Linked DNA regions of Homo sapiens. The protein of the gene in region 2 interacts with the protein of the main gene of each other region in a biochemical or structural test. Each region holds a gene or a part of one and is shown on either strand. Other genes may lie near its edges.

The links.
Region 1: the proteins of DLG5 (region 2) and GJC1 interact in a test that uses a peptide from one of them, tested with the Homo sapiens proteins (one large-scale study listed by IntAct).
Region 3: the proteins of DLG5 (region 2) and PTH1R interact in a test that uses a peptide from one of them, tested with the Homo sapiens proteins (one large-scale study listed by IntAct).
Region 4: the proteins of DLG5 (region 2) and FAT1 interact in a test that uses a peptide from one of them, tested with the Homo sapiens proteins (one large-scale study listed by IntAct).
Region 5: the proteins of DLG5 (region 2) and ARHGEF26 interact in a test that uses a peptide from one of them, tested with the Homo sapiens proteins (one large-scale study listed by IntAct).
Region 6: the proteins of DLG5 (region 2) and ARHGEF7 interact in a test that uses a peptide from one of them, tested with the Homo sapiens proteins (one large-scale study listed by IntAct).
Region 7: the proteins of DLG5 (region 2) and GUCY1A2 interact in a test that uses a peptide from one of them, tested with the Homo sapiens proteins (one large-scale study listed by IntAct).

What each region holds. Positions count from the first base shown.
Region 1 is NC_000017.11:44,823,788-44,827,287, forward strand, and holds part of GJC1 (gap junction gamma-1 protein), read right to left. Parts: intron 1-3,500. UniProt on the Homo sapiens protein: One gap junction consists of a cluster of closely packed pairs of transmembrane channels, the connexons, through which materials of low MW diffuse from one cell to a neighboring cell.
Region 2 is NC_000010.11:77,790,756-77,794,255, forward strand, and holds the end of DLG5 (disks large homolog 5), read right to left. Parts: intron 3,363-3,500; coding exon 3,253-3,362; intron 1,789-3,252; coding exon 1,685-1,788; 3' UTR 36-1,684; downstream 1-35. UniProt on the Homo sapiens protein: Acts as a regulator of the Hippo signaling pathway.
Region 3 is NC_000003.12:46,887,721-46,891,220, reverse strand, and holds part of PTH1R (parathyroid hormone/parathyroid hormone-related peptide receptor precursor), read right to left. Parts: intron 1-3,500.
Region 4 is NC_000004.12:186,717,357-186,720,856, reverse strand, and holds part of FAT1 (protocadherin Fat 1 isoform 1 precursor), read left to right. Parts: intron 1-3,500.
Region 5 is NC_000003.12:154,253,890-154,257,389, reverse strand, and holds part of ARHGEF26 (rho guanine nucleotide exchange factor 26), read right to left. Parts: exon of another isoform or gene 3,417-3,500; intron 2,671-3,416; coding exon 2,566-2,670; intron 2,060-2,565; coding exon 1,917-2,059; 3' UTR 1-1,916. UniProt on the Homo sapiens protein: Activates RhoG GTPase by promoting the exchange of GDP by GTP. Required for the formation of membrane ruffles during macropinocytosis. Required for the formation of cup-like structures during trans-endothelial migration of leukocytes.
Region 6 is NC_000013.11:111,282,810-111,286,309, reverse strand, and holds part of ARHGEF7 (rho guanine nucleotide exchange factor 7), read right to left. Parts: intron 3,172-3,500; coding exon 2,947-3,171; coding exon of another isoform or gene 2,911-2,946; intron 1,906-2,910; exon of another isoform or gene 1,484-1,905; intron 164-1,483; coding exon 70-163; intron 1-69. UniProt on the Homo sapiens protein: Acts as a RAC1 guanine nucleotide exchange factor (GEF) and can induce membrane ruffling. Functions in cell migration, attachment and cell spreading. Promotes targeting of RAC1 to focal adhesions. May function as a positive regulator of apoptosis.
Region 7 is NC_000011.10:106,941,977-106,945,476, forward strand, and holds part of GUCY1A2 (guanylate cyclase soluble subunit alpha-2), read right to left. Parts: intron 1-3,500. UniProt on the Homo sapiens protein: Has guanylyl cyclase on binding to the beta-1 subunit. Isoform 2 acts as a negative regulator of guanylyl cyclase activity as it forms non-functional heterodimers with the beta subunits.

The DNA.
Region 1 (3,500 bases), on a different chromosome or scaffold from region 2:
TGCAACCTCTGCCTCCCAGGTTCAAGCGATTCTCCTGCCGCAGCCTCCTAAGTAGCTGGGACTACTGGCGTGTGCCACCACACCTGGCTAATTTTTTGTATTTTTAGTAGAGACGGGGTTTCACGGTGTTAGCCAGGATGGTCTCGATCTCCTGATCTCATGACCTGCCCACCTCGGCCTCCCAAAGTGATGGGATTACAAGGCGTGAGTCACTGTGCCTGGCCCTCTTTTCGTTTTTTGAGATGGAGTCTTGCTCTGTTGCCAGGCTGGAGTGCAGCGGCACAATCTCAGCTCACTGCAACCTCCACCTCCCGGGTTCAAGCGATTCCCCTGCCTCAGCCTCCAGAGTAGTTGGGATTACAGGCGCGCGCCACCATGCCCGGCTAATTTTTTGTATTTTAGTAGAGATAGGGTTTCACCATGTTGGCCAGGATGGTCTCGAACTCCTGACCTTGTGACCTGCCTGCCTCGGCCTACCAAAGTGCTGGGATTACAGGTGTGAGCCACCGCACCCGGCCTCTTTTTTCAAATAGAGACTGTCCCACTCTGTTGACCAGGGTGGAGTGCATGGTGTGATCACAACTCACTGTAGCCTTCAACTTCTGGGCTCAAAAAATCCTCCTGCCTCATCCTCCTGAGTAGCTGAAACCACAGGTGTATGCCACCACATCCAGCTAATTTTCAAATTACTTTTTGCAGAGACAGGGCCCTCACTATGTTGCCCAGGGTGGTCTCAAACTCCTGGGCTCAAGGTATCCTCTAGCCTCAGCCTCCGAAAGTGCTGGGAGTACATGTGTGCCACTGCACTCCAGACTGGGTGACACAGTGAGGCTCTGTCTCAAAAATAAAATAAATAAAATAAAATCAGTCAAATTAGCCAGGCGTGGCAGCATGCGCCAGTAGTCCCAATTACTTGGGAGGCTGAGGCAGGAGAATTGCTTGAACCTGGGAGGCAGAGGTTGCAGCGAGCCGAGATCGCACCACTGCAACTCCAGCCTGGATGACAGAACAAGACTGTCTTAAAAAAAAAAAAAAAAAAATTAGTCAAGTGCAATAGTGAGAAGGGGGGGAAAGAAAGAGTCCAACTATTTTTTTTTTTTAATCAAGTGCTTATATGTTTTGGGGAAGAAAAAAAAAAAAAAAACGTTGGGATCCAGGTGCCTTGGCCTGTAATCCCCATATTTGAGAGGCCAAGAGGACTGCTTGAGCCCAGGAGTTCAAGACCAGCCTGGGCAACAAAACAAGACCCTGTCTCTTCCAAAAAAAATTTTAAAATTAACTGGGCGTGGTGGCGGTGTGGGCCTGTGGTCCCAGCTACTAGGGATGCTGTGGTGGAAGGATCGCTTGAGAGCACCACTACACTTTAGCCTGGGCTACAGAACAAGACTCTGTCTCAATTACAAAAAAAAAAAAAAAAAAAAAAAAAAAAAGGCTGGGCGCAGTGGCTCATGCCTGTAATCCCAGCACTTTGGGAGACCGAGGCAGGTGGATCACCTGAGGTCAGGAGACCAGCCTGACCAACATGGAGAAACCCTGTCTCTACCAATACAAAATTAGCTGGGCATGGTGGTGCATGCCTGTAATCCCAGCTACTTGGGAGGCTGAGGCAAGAGAATCTTGCCCAGGGGGCAGAGGTTGCGGTGAGCCGAGATTGCGCGACTGCACTCCAGCCTAGGCAACAAGAGCAAAACTCCGTCTCAAAAAAATAAAAAGGGCCAGACACAGTGGTTCGCGTCTGTAATCCCAGCACTTTGAGAGGCTGAGGCAACCTGAGGTCAGGAGTTCGAGACCAGCCTAGCCAACATGGTGAAACCCTTTCTCTACTAAAAATACAAAAATTAGCTGGGCGTGGTGGTGGACACCTATAATCCCAGCTTCTCGCAAGGCTGAGGCAAGAGAATTCCTTGAACCTGGGAGACGGAGGTTGCAGTGAGCCAAGATCGTGCCACTGCACTCCACCCTGGGTGAAAGAGTGAGACTCAGTCTCAAAAGAAAAAAAAAAAAAAAGTTGAATGACTTAATGGGCACCAGAATGCTTTTGTCCAAATTGTGCTTGTATTACAAGCATTATAGCCTCAAAGAACAAAGCTTCAACTGAGAGCTGGAGAAGAATTCATTTACCAGAATACTTCATTTCTTTCTTTTTATTTTGAGACAGAGTCTCGCTCTGTCGCCCAGGCTGGAGAGCAGTGATGCGATCTCGGCTAACTGCAACCTCCACCTCCCAGGTTCAAGCCATTTGCCTGCCTCAGCCTCCCGAGTAGCTGGGATTACAGATGACTGCCACCACGCCCAGGTAATTTTTTGTACTTTTAGTAGAAATGGGATTTCACCATGTTGGCTAGGCTGGTCTTGAACTCCTGACCTCAGGTGATCCACCCGCCTTGGCCTCCCAAAGTGCTGGGATTATAAGCATCAGCCACCACTCCTGGCCCCATTTCATTTCTTTAGAAGTAAAATGCTGGCCGGGCACGGTGGCTCACGACTGTAACCCCAGCATTTTGGGAGGCCGAGGTGGCCGGATCATGAGATCAGGAGATCGAGACCATCCTGGTTAACACGATGAAACAGTCTCTACTAAAAATACAAAAAATTAGCCGGGCATGGTGGTGGACGCCTGTAGTCCCAGCTACACAGGAGGCTGAGGCAGGAGAATGGCATGAACTCGGGAGGTGGAGCTTGTGGTGAGCAGAGATCACGCCACTGCACTCCAGCCTGGGCAATGGAGCGAGACTCCGTCTAAAAAAAAAAAAAAAAAGTAAAATGCTATCTGCAAAGAGATCATCATATCCTTGTTTTAGGAAAACTCTTTGGGCAATATATTCCACAGGTCTGAAAGATAAACCTTTATTGCCAAGGACTGCTCTCAGCCAACTACAGTACTTGTAAAATTCAAGAATGTATAACTGTATGCCAGCCAGTACTGACTAACAGGTCATTCACTCTTTAGAGTTGCAGTAAATAGCAATGCTCAAACGCCCAGCTAGTTTTTTGTATTTAAAATTATTTGTATTTAAATCTTAAAAAATATTTTTAAAAATACATTTTACTAGGTTCTTATTTCAACACAAACTGAACTCATCAGCTGTAGCAGTATGTTGAAAAACAACTGTTGCCATTCAGCTGATATTAACAGCTCAGAACTGTTTTCTATGTCTAAATTTCAGGTTAACGATATCAGCCAAAATCTATCTTCTCATACCTATTCTCAAAGGAACGGTCTTACAAAACTAATAATCTGGTCGAGTGCGGTGGCTCACACCTGTAATCCCAGCACTCTGGAAGGCAGAGGCAGGCGGATCACCTAATGTCAAGAGTTGGAGACCAGCCTGACCAACATGGTGAAACCCCGTCTCTACTAAAAAATACAAAATTAGCTGGGCATGGTGGGGCATTCCTGTAATCCCAGCTACTTGGGAGGCTGAGGCATGAGAATCACTTGAACTCGGGAGGCGGAGGTTGCAGTGAGACAAGATAGCACCGTTGCAGTGAGACAAGAT
Region 2 (3,500 bases):
GAAGAGATTAAAAACTCACATCTTCAAACACAGCCTTACAGAAATTGACCTTTATTTGTTGTACTAAAGCCTGTTTAACTTTTGATACAAAGTAACATTTTAGTACAGAAAATCCCAGTCTGTCAGCTCAGTACCTGTCTGTGCACACTGTACCATCTCAGTCCCACTCTGCCTGTAACTTAGAAAACAGCCCCTACCCCCAGAGGGTCTGCGAGTTAATACCTTGAGAATAGTCTACAGTTTTTCATAGTTTGTCTGAGCTAGAAAACTTGTACCTGTAAAACAAAGGACAGCATTGAGGACTGAAACTTGTCTCTTTTTTGAACAACTGTGCAAGAAAATATATCCCTTTTTAAAAAACATCAGTTATGGCTAAACTACAATCTAGTGTCTAGAATTACAAAGAATAAAATGAAATCAAAGATTTCTCGCTAGTAAAATGAAATGTTAGGAACAGTATTAAAATATAGGTCCTACCCCAACGACACTTACACAGAGCCCAGTACAGTACCTATTATTAACAGGACGCATAGCTTAAGGAGGAACCACATCAAATCTTCAGCCAGACATATCTAGCCTCAGAAGTGCAAAAAAAAAAAAAGCCCCCAAACGAAGACACCCACACTGAGTAGGGTGCATGCCGTGAGTGCTGTAATCAAGATTAAAAAGACCTCAGTTTTTCTTTTTAGACTGTTGATAGTGACAATAACCATTATGCTTCCCCTAAAAGCTCTCAATTCAATGTCTGAAACATGAATGTTTTCATATCAAAAAGAACTGATGTACCTGCCACCCTCTAAAAAGTTTAAGAATTACCCTGCAAACATTGCACTGATGAAGGCTGTCACGACTTACAGAGCCTAAGGAGGACCCAATGGCAGGCATCAGCACAGCTGAACACCACCTGGACCCCACTGCAGCCCTGCCCACGCAGCTCTCACGGAGCAGACACAGTCCTCAAGTAATAAGCACAGATGGAGGAGAAACGAGAGGCTGTGGAAGGCAGGAGAGAAAGGCCGAGAGACGAGTTTGTAAGAATGCCAAAGTCACCTTCCCCATTGTGGGAGGAAAATGCCAAAGGCACTGGTTCTGCTGCCACAGGCAGTCTGAGCACCTGGAGTTGTGACGTCCTTCCAGGAGAGGTGCCACCAAGGAGCAGGAGGTTTGTCAAAGCTCTGGTCCCACCAACAAGAACCTCCCAAAGCAAAGCAGCCCCCATTGAGGTTCCAAGGTCGTTTTGCTGAAGACGGGAACGAAACCAACACCAAAGCGACAGGGGGTTGACAGAGGGGACAGGGGCTGGGCACCGGCAACATGGAGCCGTTCAAGTAAACATAAACCACCAAATACTTAGAAAAGGCTTGTAAACGAGTGATCCGAAAGGTTCTCTTTGCAGCATCTCTGATCAGCTGGCTAAAGAAAGGTGGGTGCTGAACCCGTCTTTAGTGTTATCTGTTTTGTGTTAAAGCACACGTGTGACACGGGCAGAGTGTGTGGGCCTGGGCCTGGATCGCACGCAGCCGTGGCCCTCTGTCTACAAAGGAGGTGCTTCTGGGTCCTGGTTCCGGATCCTTCCCCCGCATGTTCATAGACGGACAGACTTCTACTTTCAGTCGCTAGAAAAGAGCTGAGTCTGGTGTCCCCTCAGGCGGCCAGCTGCAGTCATCCACAGCACAGCATTCTCCTAGAGCGGGCAGGCTGGAATCCACAGGACTTTATTTTGTTCTTGATTGACCATTGCCAAGATCTGAGTGCAAATGCTTGACAGGGCTCCTCCCTGGATGACCCCTGCAAAAGAGCCCCCCAGACACGTCATTCAGCTCAGAGTAAGACCCCAGGTTTGAGGCAAGGCAGTACAGCTTGCACTCTTTCTACTGTGTGGCTGTCTGCTTTGTGCTCCTTGGCACTCTGCTCCATCCCCACCTGACTCTCCTTCACCAGCAAGAAACTGGGAAAGAAAATTGCCCCTCTTGAGTTGATCACTCATATGTAAACTGCCCACCCCACTGCAGTTAACACCCTGGGTTGGGTTTGCAATGGTTGGGGGAATCCCAGGGCATCAGAAGGAAGTTTGGAGGACATGTGGCGGTGGTCTAATCATTAGCAGGATTCTGCAGGAAACGACAAGTTTAAGGAGCCAGATAGCTCATGGCCAAGAGGAGAGTCACAGAAAGATGATGGCGCCAACTTGGGCCAGCCCTGTACTATAGGAGTTTGACAAAGGGGTCTATAGACACCAGGCCAGGGGTACTCCAGTGTGCTCCACATAACAGCACCTGGACACAAACCAAGCCCCTACTGCAACAAGGCATGCTCAGAAATTGACAGTGAGTGTCTAGAAACTGCTATGGAAACAGGACGTCGTAATTTTATGTCTGTTGAATCTAACAAGAAAAAAATAGAGCTTACCTTTTGCAAGACTTAGAGTTTTAAATTTTCATCTCTCTAGGAATTGTCAGTGTATTTGGCTAAATACCAGTCTGTGAGGAATTGGAAATGAAAGTTCACACACACACCCACACACACACACACACAGAGGCATGCACACCTGCACATACCTACACACACATGGGCACCAAGCCCAGGTCCCTGGACTAGATCATAACACTCTCCACAATGCAGTTAGAATCCCTGTCCCATCCTCTGTGACTGCAAATGCTAATGCCCTGCAAATGACAGACTTTCCCAAAGAGGCTGAAGGCCAGAAGGTAAAATAGAACCAAACTTCACTGAGTTTGTTTCACTTTGAAGACCAGAGATGGTAAGGGGACAGCATTGTTTTTTTTTGTTTTGTTTTTTGTTTTTTTTTTTTTGGAGGGGGGTTTGCCAAATCCCGCTGCAAAACGGGACTGCCCTGGAGGGTGCTAGGGACAGATGGGCCCCTAGCCTCCGCTGCCCACACTGCTGGCACACTGGGGGCTGCTCCAGTCCCCGCCCTGCCTGGGGACACTGTGGCTGCACTAAACTGCACCTGTGCTATGAGACAGACCCACCACTGCACGTGTGAAAATGAGCAGGCAAGCCAGGCAGGACCTGAGGCCAAGATCGGTGAGCTTAACATTCAACCTGTAAGAATCCTGACGTTGGCCAGGGACTGCAATCTGAACACCTGACTTGTCAGGAACGTGCTCATGACAGCACTTGGGAGCATGTAGAAAGTGCGGGCTTCTCCACGGCTAAGAAAACAGCCTTAGGAAGCCTCTGCTTCCTTCCCTGCTGCCTGCTCCCCACTCCAGGCCCACGCACACCTACCTGTGAAGTACCTGCTGTACTCCTGCTCAAGCTTCTGCGCCGCCTCAAACTGCTCTTTGGAATGCCTCTGAGTCACCTTGTCCCTCAGGTAGATGGGGTCTCTCTGCTCCCTGTGGGGACAGCCAGACACCAGGCTGAGCACTGAGCCTCCTCCAGGCCCTCTTTCCTTCCTCTGTCCAGGCTAACAGGGGCCCCATCAAGGCAGGGGTAGGCTGTGGAGGGAGGCCCCATGTGCTCCCCACATAAAG
Region 3 (3,500 bases), on a different chromosome or scaffold from region 2:
GAGAGGGAAAGATATGTGCTTCCAGCACGCATGACTCCCACACTCCTTCATTCATCCATAGGGGTGGTGGCCCCACCTCTGGCCTCCCTGAACTTTAGGACCTATTTATCTGTTAGCACAGCCATTGCAACAAGAATAACTCATGTTAAAGTTAAGGAAGCACTTTCCCAAGAAGAGGAGGACAACCCCACACCAAGTGCGCTACCCCTCCAAACGTTAGCTCACAGCTCCGTGCCTGGAATGCCCCCACTCCTGTTCACTCCTCCCTCCAGCTGTGCCCTCCTCTTCAAGGAGATTCTGCCACCAGCCCCACAATGTGAATCCCACCTCCACCCTTGACTAGCTTCGTGTCTGAGAAAGTTGCTTAACCCGTGTGCCTCAGTTTTCCTGTAAAATCAGGGTAATAATAGGGCTGTTGTTGGCCCGGCACGGTGGCTAACACCAGTAATCCCAGCACTTTGGGAGGCCAAACCAGGTGGATCACCTGAGGTCAGGAGTTCGAGACCAGCCTGACCAACATGGAGAAACCTTGTCTCTACTGAAAAATACAAAATTAGCTGGGTGTGGTGGTGCGCCTGTAATCCCAGCTACTCGGGAGGCCGAGGCAGCAGAATCGCTCAAACCTGGGAGCGGAGGTTCCAGTGAGCCGAGATCGCGCCATTGCACTCTAGCCTGGGCAACAAGAGCGAAACTCCATCTCAAAAAAAAAAAAAAAAAAAAAAAAGCTGCTGTGAAGATTAAATGAAGTACTTCACAACAAGCCTGTGCAGGGGTGAAGCTCAGGAAAAGCTGGTTGCTATTGTTGATACTGTGAGCAGCAGCAGCAGCAGCAAGTCACATCCCCGCCATGTGCACCCCTGCTGCCTGGTGACATGGGTGCTCCCAGCCAGGCCAGGGACCCAAGGTGGCTGGGGGAGATTATCTGGGTAGATGGCTGAGTCCAGCAGGTGACAGTGAGGGGCAGATGGGAGATGGGGCCCCAGGGTGGACTGGGGGCAGGGACTACAGGAGGACCTGCTAGATAAGGTGTTCCTGGCAAGCTTTTGGGATGGAAGAGTATCCCAATGGCTCCTTGCATTTCTGGATCCACTCTGGACTTACATTAGGATTCAAGGTTACTGCCAGAGGCCCCAAGCTTGAGCTTAGGAGGAAAAAGGACCCCCTCCTCTGCCTCTGCCCTGACTGAGGAGGCCTTATCTCCTGGGGATGAAGGGGAAATGCTGACAGCTGTATCTCTTCTCAGCCTGGCATGCCCCCTGTCTGCTACTCCCTTCTCCCCGCCCCTCCAACCCTCTCTCCCTTGAGGAGTTCCTGTCTTCTTGGCTCAGCGCCAGGGTGCAGAGGACTCAGGCTTGCGTCCCCTTAGATCCAGCGGATCTGCAGATCTTGGGTCTCAGGGGTGAGGACTGAGGGACTGGGGCTGGGCTGTGGCCAGGGGTCACTTAGTCCATACCCACCACTTACAGGCCACCCAGCCCTGCACCAGCTGTCCCATATCCCCCCAACACTCCTCCTATGGTCCTGATTAGGGCTGACTTGACTCCCCCAACCCAGCCATCATGGTGCTTGGCTTCAATACCCTCCACTGTAGCACATCCTCCCCATGGTCAGCAAGGAGCTTTAAAACCCATGCCTCCTGCACCTTCTACCACATCCCCATTTTACAGACAGGGACACTGAGGCCAAGAGTCACAGAAAGAGGAGGGCCAGGGATGGAGCTAAGATCTGCTTGACACTGAAGCAGCAGCCTTGGAAGAAGGGAAAGAGAGGAGGAAGTGCCCAGCCACACGGGTACCCTGGCACCAGCCACGGTATCATCTTTCCATAATCCTGGATTTTAGCTGCTACATTAAGCAAGTCTCCCTTTGCAGATCCCCTAAGGCAGCCTCCCCGAAGCCGATTTAGGAGCAGAGGTGTGTAGACATAAAGGTGCCGGTGATGCCAGTGATGGCGGCTTGTCCCCAGCTGTAACTGGGTAGAGGACAGTTGGGCTCTGGTGTTGGGAACCAGGCCGTTGATGCCTCCAGCACAGCCAGAAGGAGAAAACCCTGGCTAACAGGAGACCCCTTCATGACCTCCTGGCCTTCCTACAGCCCTCCTCCAGGTTCTACTACTGGGACCCATGCTGGCACCCCTGGATGTCTCCCGTGCCAGCTGGCTGGGACTGCTCCCCCACCCCTGCTGCCCTCTCTCTGTCCGGCTGGCCTGAGCAGGCTCCTCGTCCTGCCCCGCCACCGCTGACAAGTGCTGACTTTTCCTCCCCTTCGCCAGGCTTTCCTGAACAGGCTGCCTGTGTTTGGGGCTGGGAGGGGCTGGGGGGGAAGAGGCACTGTGACGCCTCTCATCCTGGCCAGCCAGCGTGGCCGCCTTCGGGGCAGGCAGTGGGATGCAGCCTGGGATAGCGGAGTTGGCTGCTACGACCTGGTGGATCTTCATAAGCAGGCCCTACTTGGGTTGAGGAATCAAGGCCCAGAAGAACAGTATGGCCTAATCTAAGCCATCGCCTGCTCAGCAGAATGGGATCCCACTAGGTCTCACCTCGGGCATAAGACTGGCCCCAGAGTTGGGGCTTTTAAGGGTTTGAAGGTCTCTGATGTTTCTGCAAACCTGAGCAAAAGTTTGCGCCCTTCTCCCAATCACACCGTATTTTGCAGACAATTTCAGAGGTCTGCAAAACCCTCGCCCCACCTTTTCTTTTTCCTGAGGACTCTCCTTCTGAAATAGCTGCCTTCCTGATGTGGTGGCTGGACCAGGGAGTGTCCCCAGAAGGCCCACAACAGGAATCTGAGGGAGGCTACTTGACGCCTCATTAAAACATTCCGAAGAAAACCCCAGTTCCTCGGAGGGCTCGGCACCCTCCTGCTGCTCTGTCCATAAGCCGTTTCAAGAGCTGAGGTGAATGTGTTTAAGAGCAGGTGATATAAAAAGCTTCAACAAATCAATACGAAAAAGACAAATAACCCATAGAATGATGGTTAATGGCCCCGAGCAAGCTCTCACTGTAAAGCCCAGAAGTCACTGGTAATCAGCAAATTAAAATGACAAGAGACACCATTTTCACCTATCCAAGCAAAGGTGAAACACAAAGAATCCTCTTAACATCCTATGAGACAGTGGGTGTGGGCAGAGAGGCCCTCCTGGTTGGTCTTGGTGTTGTATAAGTACAAAGCAGCACAAGCTTTTTAGAGGGCAATTTGGCCATGCTATTAAAATAAAAAATATGTATATTCTCAGGCCCAGCAATGACAAAATCTAGAAATATCCTACTAGGAAATAGTCACATGGGGACACTAGAGGGCATTTCAAGGAGCTTCCCTGCCACCATCTGGAATCACGCACATATAGACACACACACAAATTATGCAGAAATGATCTAAATGTACATTCCTATGGACTACTTAATGAGTCCCAGGTTTTGGAATACTATGCAGCATTTAAAAATATAGATTCATATTTACTGAAATGAAGATCTCTAAGACACACATTTACGTCAAAATATG
Region 4 (3,500 bases), on a different chromosome or scaffold from region 2:
CTATATCCCCTCCCCAACACAGTCCTGCCTCACATTTCTCACTCTTAACGCTTTATTCATCTGTCCATTTACCAATCCAACAATAGTGGACCTCCTCTGTGTCAAACATTGGGCCAGACACAACATCTAGTGCTGAACAAATCGTGTTTCCTGCCCTCAAGCAGCTCGTAGTCTGATAAGGGAGAGGACAAGTACACAGTCTCTTATAGACCAGTGTGATAAGAGATCCATTCAGGTCAAGGTGGTCCATAGCAGCACCTCAGTGAGCTGGGGGATCTGGGGCAGGTGGATTTAGGATAATGTGAGTTCTGAGGGAAGTGTGAATCAGAGGGGAACAATTCAAGCAGAGGAAATGATGTGTGCAAAGCAAGTTATAGAAAGCATAGTGTGGCTTGTGGTGTGATGAGTGGAGAGAAATTCTGAAGACCTCACCGTACCATGTTATCTTAGGAAAAGGATTGGCTTCTTTTTTTTGTCTAGGTAGAACATAGAGAATCTTGACTATGACTTAAATAATCTTATTAAAAAAGGGAGGATTGTTTTTATGAGGCAGAGGTTAAGGAGAGAGAAAAAGAAAGAAACGTTGAAGAGAAAGGTGAAAACAAATAAGCTGTATGTGAGGAGTGGAGGGCAGGAAACAAAGAAAATAGTAATGTTTGCATTATCTTTCGGAAGGGAAGAGGTCAAGATGTTACATTACTTTAGAGCCTTCACCACTAGGTGGTGTTATTGGCTCAAGACAGCTTGGTTACTGAACTTGTTGCAAGTCTGGGAAGTATGCCTTTTTGTTTTGAAATAAGAAGTAGTGTTGGGAAATTAGGAAATTAGTTAGAGGTTAGATTATCAAAGGTCTTTAATGCAAGGTTAAGAATCATATACTTAGCAGGCTAAGGGGAAATACTGAATATTTTCAAGCTAAAGAATAATATCACAAAGAAGTTTGAATAGGTTGACTGGGATTGGGGGCAGAAAGCAGGAATACCAAAAGACTGTAGGAATACTCTGCATGAACAAAATACCCATTCTAACTAGGTGGTAGCAGCAGAAATGCAAAGGGAACCATTTTGAGAAATTGAGAAAGAAATGTCAAGTTTGGATAACTTTTGAGAAATGAAGGTTTGAGAGCCAGGAGGCTGTAAAGATTTTAGTCCATCCTTCAATTTCTCGAATACATAGAGTCGAAAGGATTAAGCAAGTTCCTTGAATTCACACAGTTGATTAGTGACAAAGCTGGAGCTAGGTTCCACATTTGATGTTCTCCCAACCCCTTCCTTTTTGTTTGATTTGTTAGTTTGCAAACTTGGTTGATTTGGGAAGTGGTGAGATTGGAAAATAACTGGAAGAGCTGTTATTTTGCAATGGCGAAAGGGTGAAAAGTCTATATAGTTGTCCCTTGGTCTCTAAGGGAGGTTTGGGATTTTATACCCAAATCTGAGAATGCTCAAGTCCCTGATATAAAATGGGGTACTATTTATATTTTTACTGTTTTATTGTTTATTTTAAAGACGTTCTCAACCTGAGGTTGGTTGGATCCATGGATGCAGAACTCTTATATAGTGAAGGCCAATCGTATAACTTAGGTTTGATGGTATTTTAGGAGGAATGTTACGAGGTGTTTGAGAGAGGTTAGAGCTGAAATTGCAGATTTGGTGCACTGATCCTTCATGATTTGAGGCAGAGTAGATGAGATCTTTAAGGGTGGTAATAAATGCATGTGGAGGAAGAGTTGGAAGACAAGTTTGTAATGCCAGAGTTGTAGGTGAGTCAGTGTAGAGTATAAAAGAGTATGGAAGAGAATCAGGAGAATGTTGTCATTCATTTTTCATACCTGTGGATTGCCTCTTTGTTTTGGGGGACTCTGTGACCGAATGAAGGATCAGGAGTGTTGGGGAGGGGAGTGAGTGGTGTCAAAGGTGTCATGAAATCAAGGAGGATGAGCACTGAGAAAAGGTCATTGGTTTGACATTAGCTTGTGATGCGGGAACGGCTGTTCTGCCAGGGTGGACCTGCAGGATCTCTGTGGAGCAGCGTTTGGCGGAGAGGGAGTTCTAAGGAAGCCAGGGCGGTGCTGTGAAACTCCTTTTCTTGCGATCTTTGCCAGTATAAAAAAAGAGAAGAATAAGAGTGTTTGTTTGAAAGAAGCAAAGGTTTGAATGAAGTTTATTTTATTTTATTTTATTTTATTTTTTTGAGACGGAGTCTGGCTCTGTCGCCCAGGCTGGAGTGCAGTGGCGCAATCTCGGCTCACTGCAAGCTCCGCCTCCCGGGTTCAAGCGATTCTCCTGCTTCAGCCTCCTGAGTAGCTGGGACTACAGGTGCATGCCACCACGCCCGGCTAATTTTTGTATTTTTAGTAGAGACGGGGTTTCACCATGTTGGCCAGGATGGTCTCAATCTCTTGACCTCATGATCTGCCCACCTCAGCCTCCCAAAGTACTGGGATTACAGGCATGAGCCACCGTGTCTGGCCAAGCTTATTTTTTAAGTAGGAGAAGAACCTGTGTGTGTGTATGGATTCTGCACAAGGTGTCAGGAGTGGGAGGAGCTGTAGAAGAGGCAGGATTTTGTGGTATCAGAGTATCTTTATTTGCAGCTAGGGTGGGTGGCATCTCTTCTGAGGTGTAAGAAGAGAGAACAGGTGAAGAGAACATTTTAAGAGGAGGAGGGAAGATGGACTTTTCTCCCTGAAGATTTCCGTTTTCTTGCTGTACATGGAACATTCACTTTCCTGGTCTGTCATTTAGTGAAGGGTTGACCGAATCTAATTATACAGGGAGCCCAATTCAACGTATAAAATAAAGTCTTACTTACCAACTTGGGAGTGGAAGAAGTGGCCATTGTTGATTATTGGCTACTCTGCCAAGATGTCATTTAAATTACTTCTGTTTGTGGAGAAAAATACATTAGATGAGATGATCTCCATTCACAAGAGGTCAACAGTCCATTGAGCTTCTCCTTGGGCAAAGTTTGTCCTGGAATGTGGATGAGGAGAAAGTGGTTGGAGGATAAGGAATATATAGAGAGGGGAAAGAAGAGAATAGCACAGGAATGCCTCACCCTGCCAGAAATAGACACACAGCCGCTGCCTACCTGTCCTGTCTTGTCGTTCCCAGGAGCACAGAACAACTAGAACCCGTCATCTTCGTAATGCCAACAGACATGTTTTATAGGTTCATGTAGATAACTAGGTTTTATATAGAGGCTGTTTGAAAAATAGGACATCTGTTTATCTTTCTTAAGGGCAGGAACACTTCAGGAATCTATTTTGGATTGATTAAATCATGTACATGGTGAAGTTTTCTGAAAAAGCCAGATTGTAGTTCCACACTGTCATTGTCAGTAAAGACCATTCTCAGGGTTAAATTGGAACCGGTGGTTGATCATGTGAAGGCAATATTTAAAGTATGTCTTGCTAGAGTTACCAGATTATTGCAGCCCCAGTCAAAGATAACAACATATAAATGGAGTTAGCAGAAGTGATTAAATGACATATACCAAGC
Region 5 (3,500 bases), on a different chromosome or scaffold from region 2:
TTGATAGCCTCTCTTTTAAAAAGTCTGTGACATTATTAAAGAGGTGACGGAATGCTTGTTTTGCAAACCCCAACACATCTTTCACTGTGGACCATTGCTATTACTTCATTAACACAGTTGCTCAGATCTCAAGGTACTCACGGTCTGAAATATATTTTACAATTAGAAGGTATGCACAGGTCAAAAAGAGCAATCCAAGGGTTAGAAGTCCCCAGTGCCCCACACTGGCTCATTGCCGAGGTGACAGGGTGCAGGCTGTGTGAGCCAGGCACACTTACCCCTCAACTGGGCTTCTGTAGCTTTACAATTTGGATAACTAGTTAGCGGACAGTAGTTGGGACATGTCACATACAGATTTGAGTCCTCCAATAATGTACACTTTGCCAGGTTTTATCCCTTTGTTAAAGCAAATAGAACAGAGAGGGAATATAGCTGCCAGTAAAAATCATTTCCCCCCTCTTAATCTCCCATCCTTCATCTCCATGAAACCGACTATTAAGATAACCTTTCTCTCTCTGTGCACTAGTGGAAAAAGTAAAGTTCTATAGAAACTCACAGTTAAGAGGGACTCTGAATACAGCAAGTTAAGGCTTTTAGTGCAAATAGAATGAATTCCCACTAAGGTCAAAAGGTTTCAATTGGGTACCATGCTGACTTCTTGGTATCTTTTAAGGCCTAATTTTCCCTTCCTTGAGATTACTGTAGTGTGTTCCAGCTAATTTCTATTTGGAAACGAGTTGGAACAGCTGAAAACTAGGTATTATTGAAGGCAAAGCAGCCTCACGTCAGTTTTTTATCAGCTCATTTGGGAAGGTTTTTTTTTTTTTTTTTTTTTTTTTTTAATTAATTAGAAAGTAGGCTGGGCACGGTGGCTCATGCCTATAATCCCAGCACTTGGGGAGGCCGAGGATCTCCTCTCTGGTGGATCACTTGAGGGCAGGAGTTAAGAGACCATCCTGGCCAACATGATGAAACCCTGTCTCTACTAAAAATACAAAAAGTAGCTGGGCGTGGTGGCATACTCTTACAATCCCAGCTACTTGGGAGGCTGAGGCAGGAGAATCACTTGAACCTAGGAAGCAGAGGTTGCAGTGGGCCAAGATCACACCACTATACTCTAGCCTGGGCGACAGAGGTGGGGAAAAAAGTAGGACCCCTGTCCTATATTCAGGTTTTTCTCACATATATGAACCCATCTAAATTCTACGTTGTTAAAGGTAGCTTAGGTTAATTAGTCTATACTTATTTAAGAACAATATGGGGTGAGATGGATTTTTTTTTAAAAATCCTAAAGTAAGGCTTTCTACTTTCCTTCTAATGAGGAAAAAGGTGACAAAAATTCAAGTGTCAATGTCCCCTTCCTGGGAAGAGGTTTAGAAAAACAACAGCTCACCTTCTGAACTCTACCAGTTCCTTTTGAAGTTAACGAAGCATTAAAATCAGATGTAAAAAAAGAAAAAAAAAGGCAGGGAAATATTTACAAAACTGGACATTCTTTACAGATATACAATCTTGCTAATACTGGGAGAACCATACAAGGATGTATAAAGAGAGACAGTCACCTTAGTAATGCAAGGATAGAGAAAACCAGGATATAATATGTGTTTTTTATTGCCAGAACATGGTGAAACTAGGAGGAGCAGAGATGACCTGATCCCTGAAGTGAACTGCTCAGCTATTCTGTGTACCTCAGGAGGTCTGCAAGTGTGTGGTTAGGTAAAAACTGAGCTGTGCAAACTCACTGTATCCAAGCTCTTCTCATGAGAGAGCAGAACAACCTGGCAAGCTTAAAGGCAAGTGTTTTCGTTCTTTTAATTAAATAGGCTGTGACAAAATTAACAATAAAACTAGCCCAGAACCAACCAGCCCGGTAAGTGTCGTGCAAATCTTGCAGTAACAAAAGACCATCTGAGAGACTACACGTTGGTCTCCAGTCCTAGCAAGCGTCCCATTCTCTCCACATTCTTATCAATTGTAGCTTGACATGTTATCTCCTTGGCACATTCCATAGGAAACCAGCCTCTTTCTCCATCTCGTAGTCGTTCCCCCTCATACCAGCCTGTGAAAAAGAACAGAGTCCACACCAAACAACAAGTATTTGGAGTGTGCCAGGCTCCAAGGATATGAAAAAGCTGAGAGGCAGCATCCCTCCCCAGGCTAAGTGCTACGGTGAGAAGAGAAAGTGGGACAGGGAAAGCTTTCGAGGGGGAATGAATGACATGGCAGGGAAAGAACGTGAGCAGAGGCCCTGAAGTGAGAAGGCTGAGAGTATTTGAACCTGGGCTGAGCTGGGAAAGGAGATGCTTTGGGTAAAGGATAGCAGGAAGAATGCTATTTTTGAAAGGACGAATATTTAGAGATAAGAACTGGGTCACTGAGGGACTGGGGAAAAAAGAAAACGTCATGGTTTAGCCTTAGAGATGAGAAGACAGTACATATATGTGATCTCAAACATTAACATGTCAAGATTTGGAATATGGGCAATGATGACAAAATGACACTCCTCGGGTCTATAGCACTCTGCATCCTGGACCACGAGTGTCCCATAAGAACGCTCCCACTCACCATCGCTGACACGTTGATAGATGAGGACGACGTCAGCCACCTGCAGGGAGAGTTCATCTGGCTGCTTAGCAGTAAATGACCTAACGATTTCCACCTGGGTCAGTGCTGAGGCCAAAAGAGGACATACTAAGTTTCCAGTAGCAGAGAAAAAACATGTGCAATCCAATAATGTACACTTACTTATTTTTCTCTGCAATTCAGGGCCAGCATTGAGAGAAACAAGTTGGGCTTCTAATAAAAAGCAGAACATCTTTTCTAGCAACTCCCTTGCTTGGCTATAAGCTTTAGAATTTTAGAAGCTCAGATTTGAGAGGCCTTTTATGATGCATGATTCCCCTCAATAACAGGTTGATCAGGAGTCATTAGTCATGTCACACAATGGAACAGAAAACAGCCACTCTGCATTAGGGAAACTGAGACATGAAAGAGTTGCTGATGTGCCAAGGCCATGCAAAATCTGCAACAGACACAGTTCTCCTGGCTCTCATCAGAGTGTCTCCCCATCCCAACAGCAGCACATGAAAGTTTCCAAAAAAAAGTTTAGAAATAAAATGAGCTCCAACCAAAAGCTGAGAAGTCATGTTAGACCTCCTCAGAAATGCTGACATGTGGCCGGGCACGGTGGCTCACGCCTGTAATCCCAGCACTTTGGGAGGCCGAGGCAGGCGGATCACGAGGTCAGGAGATTGGGACCATCCTGGCTAACACGGTGAAACCCCGTCTCTACTAAAAATACAAAAAATTAGCTGGGCATGGTGGCGGGCGCCTGTAGTCTCAGCTACTTGGGAGGCTGAGGCAGGAGAATGGTATGAACCCAGGAGACGGAGCTTGCAGTGAGCTGAGATAGCACCAGAGCGAGACTCCATCTCAAAACAAACAAACAAAATGCTGACATGTGACTTCTTAATTTGCTTTTTAATACAAAGCTTGATTTC
Region 6 (3,500 bases), on a different chromosome or scaffold from region 2:
TCCCAGGAAAGCCATGGCCTACGTGACCAGGAGGCCACGTCCTCCACCACACGGACCGCAGGTACTCACTTTTCCGGGACGCGAACTCCTCATCTGAAGGCTTCCGTTCAGGTTTGCGCTTGGGCAGCAGCTTTTTCATGGTCTTAGGGCTCTTACTAAGATCCTAGGGAAAGACAAAAGAAAATGCTAACATACTCTAAAGCCAATCATTTTCACTGGCATATCAGAAAGGCTGCTGTAAAGGTATAAAACCCCAAATTATTATAGCCACTGATAAGAGCTTCTCGCCTTTTCCTACTTTGATTTTTCTTTACCAGCTTCTGAACGTTAATTTTTAAAAATCAATAGGGCATTTTCAGTATTAGTCATTGGCTAATTTTTTTTTTTTAATTCTAATAAAACCCCTCGTGTCATTTGGGTCCTGTTAGTCCTGTGATGAGAGGTGTCACCAGGAGGCAGGCTGGCGCTGGTGTGCACAGACATCCTGCACGCTCCTGAGGGAGGAGGAGAGGAGGGGGCAGCTGCTCCCTAGGACAGACCTATCCCCTGGCACAGCTAACTGGAAAGAGAGGAGGAAACTAAGGTTGTCATTAAATGACAGATAAGTAAAAAATAATTGCTTTAAGAAAATATTTGAAGTTTCAGGGAGAAGAAAAGGGAGCGAGTGCTCAGCTACCTGACTCTGAGTGCCAGGAGCACAGCCAAGCTCGGCCAGGGCTGCTGTGCAGGGGCCACATGCACACCAGCTCAGAGTGTTCACAACGGAATGGCCCACCCCTTACCTCTTCAAACAGCTTTTCAAACAAGCACAGAAGACGACGGCAAAAAACAAAGTGAGCAAAGCAAGTCCCAACAGAGCAGGTAAGGTGTCAACTGTCAAGCACGTGTTAAATACCGATATCAAAAAAAGGCTGGTTTCTGCATCACCCCAACGACATAAACCATCACGAATGCTAAACGCGAGACCAAGACTCAGAAGATGAGATGTGCTATGGAATGAACCAGGCTGGAAACAGAGGAAACAAAGCTTGGTTTTTAAAATTATCTTTAAAAGTCTTTTCTTGGGAGCTAAACAATGGGTACACATGGACATGACCATGGAAATGACAGACCCTGGGGACTCCAAAAGGCGGAAGGTGATGGGGGTGAGTTTTGAAAAGCTACCCATTGGGTACAATGTTTCCTATTTGGGTAATAGGTACCCCAGAAGCCCAAACCCCAGCATCACCCAATACAGCCACGTAACAAACTCTGAATCTAAAATAGCCTTCAAAAAGTTAAACAAAAGTATTTCTATAAAAAATTGGAAAGCTCTTAGAAATGCAGCAGCAATCTGTTCCAGAAGACACATTTATACACATGTGCTCATGGCTTCCCTAATTCGAAGCAAATTGAGATGGAGAGCCTTGAAGAGCCAACGCCCGCCCCTCACGTGCTCCGAGGGCACCTGCAGGCGCAGAGGGTCACAGAGCACACAGCACACCTGAGCCAGAGCCAGGCAGAGCGGGCTGCAGAGCGGCCTCCACGAGCCTCCATGTCCTCTTCTCACACCCTGCAAGATCACTCTCCACGCTACTGCTGGGCGGTGCTCAGCAACACTGGACGGCAGCTGCTCGGTGTGAGCCCTTCTCTCCCAGTGTGGAGTTGGCAAAGCAAATGCAGCCAGACTTATCAAAAAAAATTGTTTATCTTCACTTCAATACCCCTTCCGTTGCCCTTTCTACTTCTTTGCCCAACAGTTTTATCCCAATTTTCTTCCCTAGTAATTCAGTCTCCACCAGTTCTTGTAGTAGCTCACTTTTTCTTTAGACTGTGCACACTAAAGTATACAATAAGGAACAGCAACATTCTTCAAGTAACTTCCCATGATAGAAAATGGAAATTCTGACTTGCACACATGATTACCTGAAAGATATCATAAAAACAAAGACTCAGAACAAAAAATGAAAAGCACAGATCCTAATTTCTCATACAGTACTTTCCTGTGGGCCTTAAAACCCCCAGGGCTGCCGGCAAGAATGTAGAAAAAGTCTGCTCCAGTTCCCTTGGCAAATGTGGCCTTGACCAGACACAGAGGCACAATGCCAGGCAAGAGCGTGTCACCATCCTCACGCTCACTCACACCCCACCAACGGGCACTGCTGCTCACACTGACGCGCACGATACCCACACTCTCACCGCCACTCCTCATACCTCACCACCATGCACGCTCAACTGCTTATGAAAACAACTCTCATCTCAATTATCAGCTTCCTCAGGTGAAAGTACTTCTCAGAACAGATTTCTAAAGACACTTCCTTTCCTCATCCAAGCTGGTTTAGGTAAAAGTGTAAGGAAGTGTTAACACTTCTATTTATTCATTGGAATCGTACTTTATTTGCGCCTAGCAAATATAAAAATGCCGGATGAGAACAGAGACAAGCAAAGACCGCATCATGATTTCTTATGCATCAAAGGGGGAAACCGCCTAAGTGATTGTTTTTCATTTGTATTAGTAAATGTTCTCTTCATCTCAAATGGCTTCTGGATGACAAAATGCAGGGCTCCTGGACAGGATCCCCAACCTAGAGGAGGGGTCGTTAGACGCAGCAGACAGCGTGCAGATGCTGAGCGATGGCCTCACACACAGGGAGTGAAAGCCACCTGGGCTCAGCGCCTTTCCAGCTCCTGGCCCCTGGCGGCACACTCCTCCGGCAAGTGCAGTAAAGGCCCCCCTGTGCATGGCAGAAAGGAGGGGGACCCTGCACATCGCCTTCCCACACAGGTTACCACGGGCCTCTCAGCAGCAGAGCAGATAACCAGAGAACCAAGGCAGACCCCCCCTTCTCAGTTCTCTAGGAGTTAGGGTGCATTTTGCTGTACACAGAAGGCCCAGCACGTGGGCACACCCAGGGCCCGAGGCATGCTCACCGTCATCTGGCTGTTTGAGTGGTCAAGGGACCTCACCTCCTTGTAGCAGAGAGCAGCTGAGGGCCGGAGGGGAGGCGCGGGCCGCAGGCAGCTCAGGCTCCAGGGCTTGGGTGTTTTCGGAGGCTCCAGGGGTCCCCAGTTGATGGTGGTGTGCGGGGTGCCGTGGTGGGAGGGGTGGGGCAGCGTGTGGTAGGCGGGCGTCAGCGGCGCGGGCTTGCTGTCTGCGTGCTTGCTGGACGGAGTGACCGGGTGGGAGGGGAGCTGCCAAGGGCACAGAGCGGGAAGGGCAGAGAACATGAGACTCGCGTGCTCACCGCGAAAGGGCACTTATCACGCACTTCCTTCTGCTCTTTAAACACTCCATGTGAAATAAACCTCAGGATTTATCATTTCATTCGTATCTCTGGCTCTCAGCAGTCAGTTTTTGGGGCCAAACACTAGCTCGCGCCACCTGGGCCGAGCGTGGGGCTCCTCACGGCGTCTGCCCCAGACAGGAGGGGCAGCTCTAGCTGGGGCCCCAGCACTCAAAAGACATCCACTAGCCACATTTATTAGCTACGGAGTAACATTTATAGAAAAAAGGTACTTCA
Region 7 (3,500 bases), on a different chromosome or scaffold from region 2:
AGGTTACAAGACTGCTCTTCAACATGTGTTGCATTCACTAACAATAATGTCAGCCAGAATAGACAATAATAGTACTTATCTGTCCAGTTCTCTAGTGTAGAAGAGAAAACAAAGACAGACAATATTCACTGCCATTAGTCTCCTGTTCCAACTGCTCTGTTGAAACTGCTTTCATAAATACTTAAATCAATACATACTGTTTTGTCCTTATCTTACTTAACCTTGTTTGCTGTTTTTCCTTTAATTTGACACTATTAATCATCCCTTCCTCCTAAAACTCTCATCTCTTTTGGCTTATCAAACCATACTCTCCTGGTTTGATTACTCTGCATGAACATTAATTCTCACTTCCTTCACTAAAACTTCTTTCTATGCCAAATCCTTACATCACCATCACTATGTTATAACTAGAAAACTCTAAGATACAAGTTAAATTTATATACACATTCAATGACAGTCCTTTGTTGCTATGAAATCTTCCAGTTATGAAATTCTTATTAAAAACTAAATACAGAATAAATAAAAATTCCTATAAACTGACCATATATGCTGAACTACAATATTCCGTGTGTCACTGAAAATATTCCATGGATTGCTTCTAAACTTTGAAGAACTGTATTTTCAAAAGACTTCAGGTCCATGTGCATTGAAGAGAAAAAGAGAAGTTCTTCTAACTTGCATTTTTCATAACATTGAAAAGGTCCTCACAGTTATGGTGCACACAAATGTAAAGACAATACAGTGTAAGCTTATGTTCTGTGCCTAATGCCAGGATCCCAAAGAATCATCCAGAAAATAAGAAGTTCACCATAGGCAACAAACTAAAAACTACTCTATGCGCAGCAATCTATCAACTAGAAAGCCTGCTGCTTTATAAAGGACCTCTGTACTTTAAGGTACAATATTGTTAATTTTCAAATGATGATGCTAAGGAATACCAGATGCTAAAGTGACGGTTGTATTACTAAAAAAAAATGAATTTTTTTGAATATTACATTAAAATATTATGAATGGCAATTCTATATAAACCCATAATATTCAATTAACTAATAAAGATTTTTATTCCCAGAACTGTTAAACTGCACAAGATCAGAAAAGAAAAAAGTTATTAGATTTGAAAATATTAAAACTAAGAAAAGATTACTTCAACTTTTACAAATATACAAGTCAATAGCCAAGACTTTGATTTTAAACTTTAATCTCAAAATTCAGAAAGCACAGACAAAGTAATTCAATTCAGACAACTGATGCAATTCTGACTCCCAAAGTTCCGCCTACGATTGACGCAAACCCCCTACTTACAGTAAATCATTTGAAACATATAGACAATGCTAATCTCCTCACATCACAAGATTCTATGACAGCTTGACATCTGGGTCTATAAGAATACATTTCCTCAAGTGGCAAAATTTATAACAAAGCTGCTCTTATTAATGGGTAAGTTAAGTTAGAATTTTTAACTACTGTTAATTCACCTCTTTAAAAAGGTGAATAGCATAAATGCTGGCATCCTTTAGCTGTAAATGAAATACGATCTGTTCCTTCATGATCTGGCCCTGTTGTCTCTCATCTGCTATCCCACCCCACCTCAGATGGCATTTCTTGAGGACAAGGACCTTGCCCTATTTATGTCTGCGTATCTATCACTGGCATAATGCCTGACACCTGGAGAATAAGCATTGTTTCATAGAAATTAAGCATTCATCTAAGTATTTGTTTGGTGAATATTACTAACCTTTTAAGGTTGCACTTGTGCCACATCTAAGGATATGAAAACAAAAAGACACATGACTTTCTCTCATGGGCCCCTACAAAACAGTAAATTACATTATGGTTGGGCTACAACAGGGGTACACAGGAGTACCCACGGAAGTAGAAGAAAAACAGTATCTGCCTCTCCTCAGAGAGACAATGTTTGAAGGGAGACTTAAATAAAAAAACAGGTTAGGCTGGGCACAGTGGGTCATGCCTGTAAACCTAGCACTTTGGGAGGCCAAAGCAGGCTGATTGCTTGAGTCCAGAAGTTCAAGACCCAGCCTGCCCAACATGGTGAAACCCCATATCTAGAAAAAAGTACAAAAATTAGCAGGGCATGGTGGTACATGCCTGTAGTCCGTAGTCCCAGCTACTCGGGAGGCTGAGGTGGGAGAATCACTGGAGCCCAGGATGTTGAGGTAGCAGTGACCCGTGATCATACCACTGCACTCCAGCCTGGGCAACAGAGTGAGACCCTGTCTCCAAAAAAAAAAAAAAAAAAAAAGCAGGTGGTCCCAGCCTGGGCAACATGCCTAAACCCTGTCTTTACTAAAAATACAAAAAAAGAGCCAGGCATAGTGGTGCAGGCCCGCAGTCCCAGCTACTCTGGAGGCTGAGGTGGGAGAATCACCTGAGCCCAAGCAAGTCTAGGCTGCAGTGAGCTGTGACTGCACCACTGTACTCCAGCCTGAGTGACAGAGTGAGACCTTGTACTGAAAATTACTGTAGAAGAGTGTAAATGTCAGGAAGCATTCACTGGGGAGCCATCTTTGGGAGGAGAAAGAAGATCACAAAAAATAACTGAACGGTACCAGGTTTAATATCTGAGTGGCGAAATAATCTGAACACCAAACCCCCATGACACAAGGTTACCTATATAACAAACCTGCACATGTACCCCTGAATTTAAAATAAAATTTTTTAATCTGTGAATTTATGTTTTAAAACATACATCAGAAATAAATTTTAACAATGAGAAATGTGGTATAATGAAGATGAAGCCAACCCCCATGTGAGTACTCTGAAACGAATTTTTTCACCTAGTAACCACATCTAACAAGTGCAGTATCATAAACATACACTACAAAACTATCAGTGTTACTCCTTCCTTTCAAATCACAAAGCACATGTCCGTGTCTTTCTTATAAAATAGCAGATAGTCCCTTGTAGTATTTTTTCTGTGATCCTTCTATTTTCCATAAACATATTTAGAGGAACAACCTCTAAAAACACTATAATGTAGAATGAGAAAAAAGAAACCAATGGAAGAAGGACTATAACTAAATGAATTACAGAGAGAATTTCCCCTGAACCATGGAAAATCCTACATCTACAGATGGAAAAAGCATAAATTGCAACCAGGAATGATAAGAAACACAGACACACACACACACCCCTAAGAATATCTGGTTGGATTCCTGAAAAAAAAAAAAGAGAGAGAGAGATAAAGAAGATCTTTTAAGTTGCAAGAGAAAACAGGTAATTAAAAAAAATTTACTTTTCATCTGCAACAATGAAAGCTAGATGATGAGAGAAAAATACAGGTGAGATACTGAGAGAACTGAAACCTAAAAGTTTATCACCCAGAAGAGTATCTGGCAAAGATTCAGAGATTCCATCACTCAGTGAAACACCTTAGAAAATGAAAAAAAACAAAAACAAAAAAAACAAAACAAAAAAACACATTAATCGATCAAGAAATCACTCAGAATGAAGAAGTAGAGGAGTCTGGTTAAGAGAAGAAG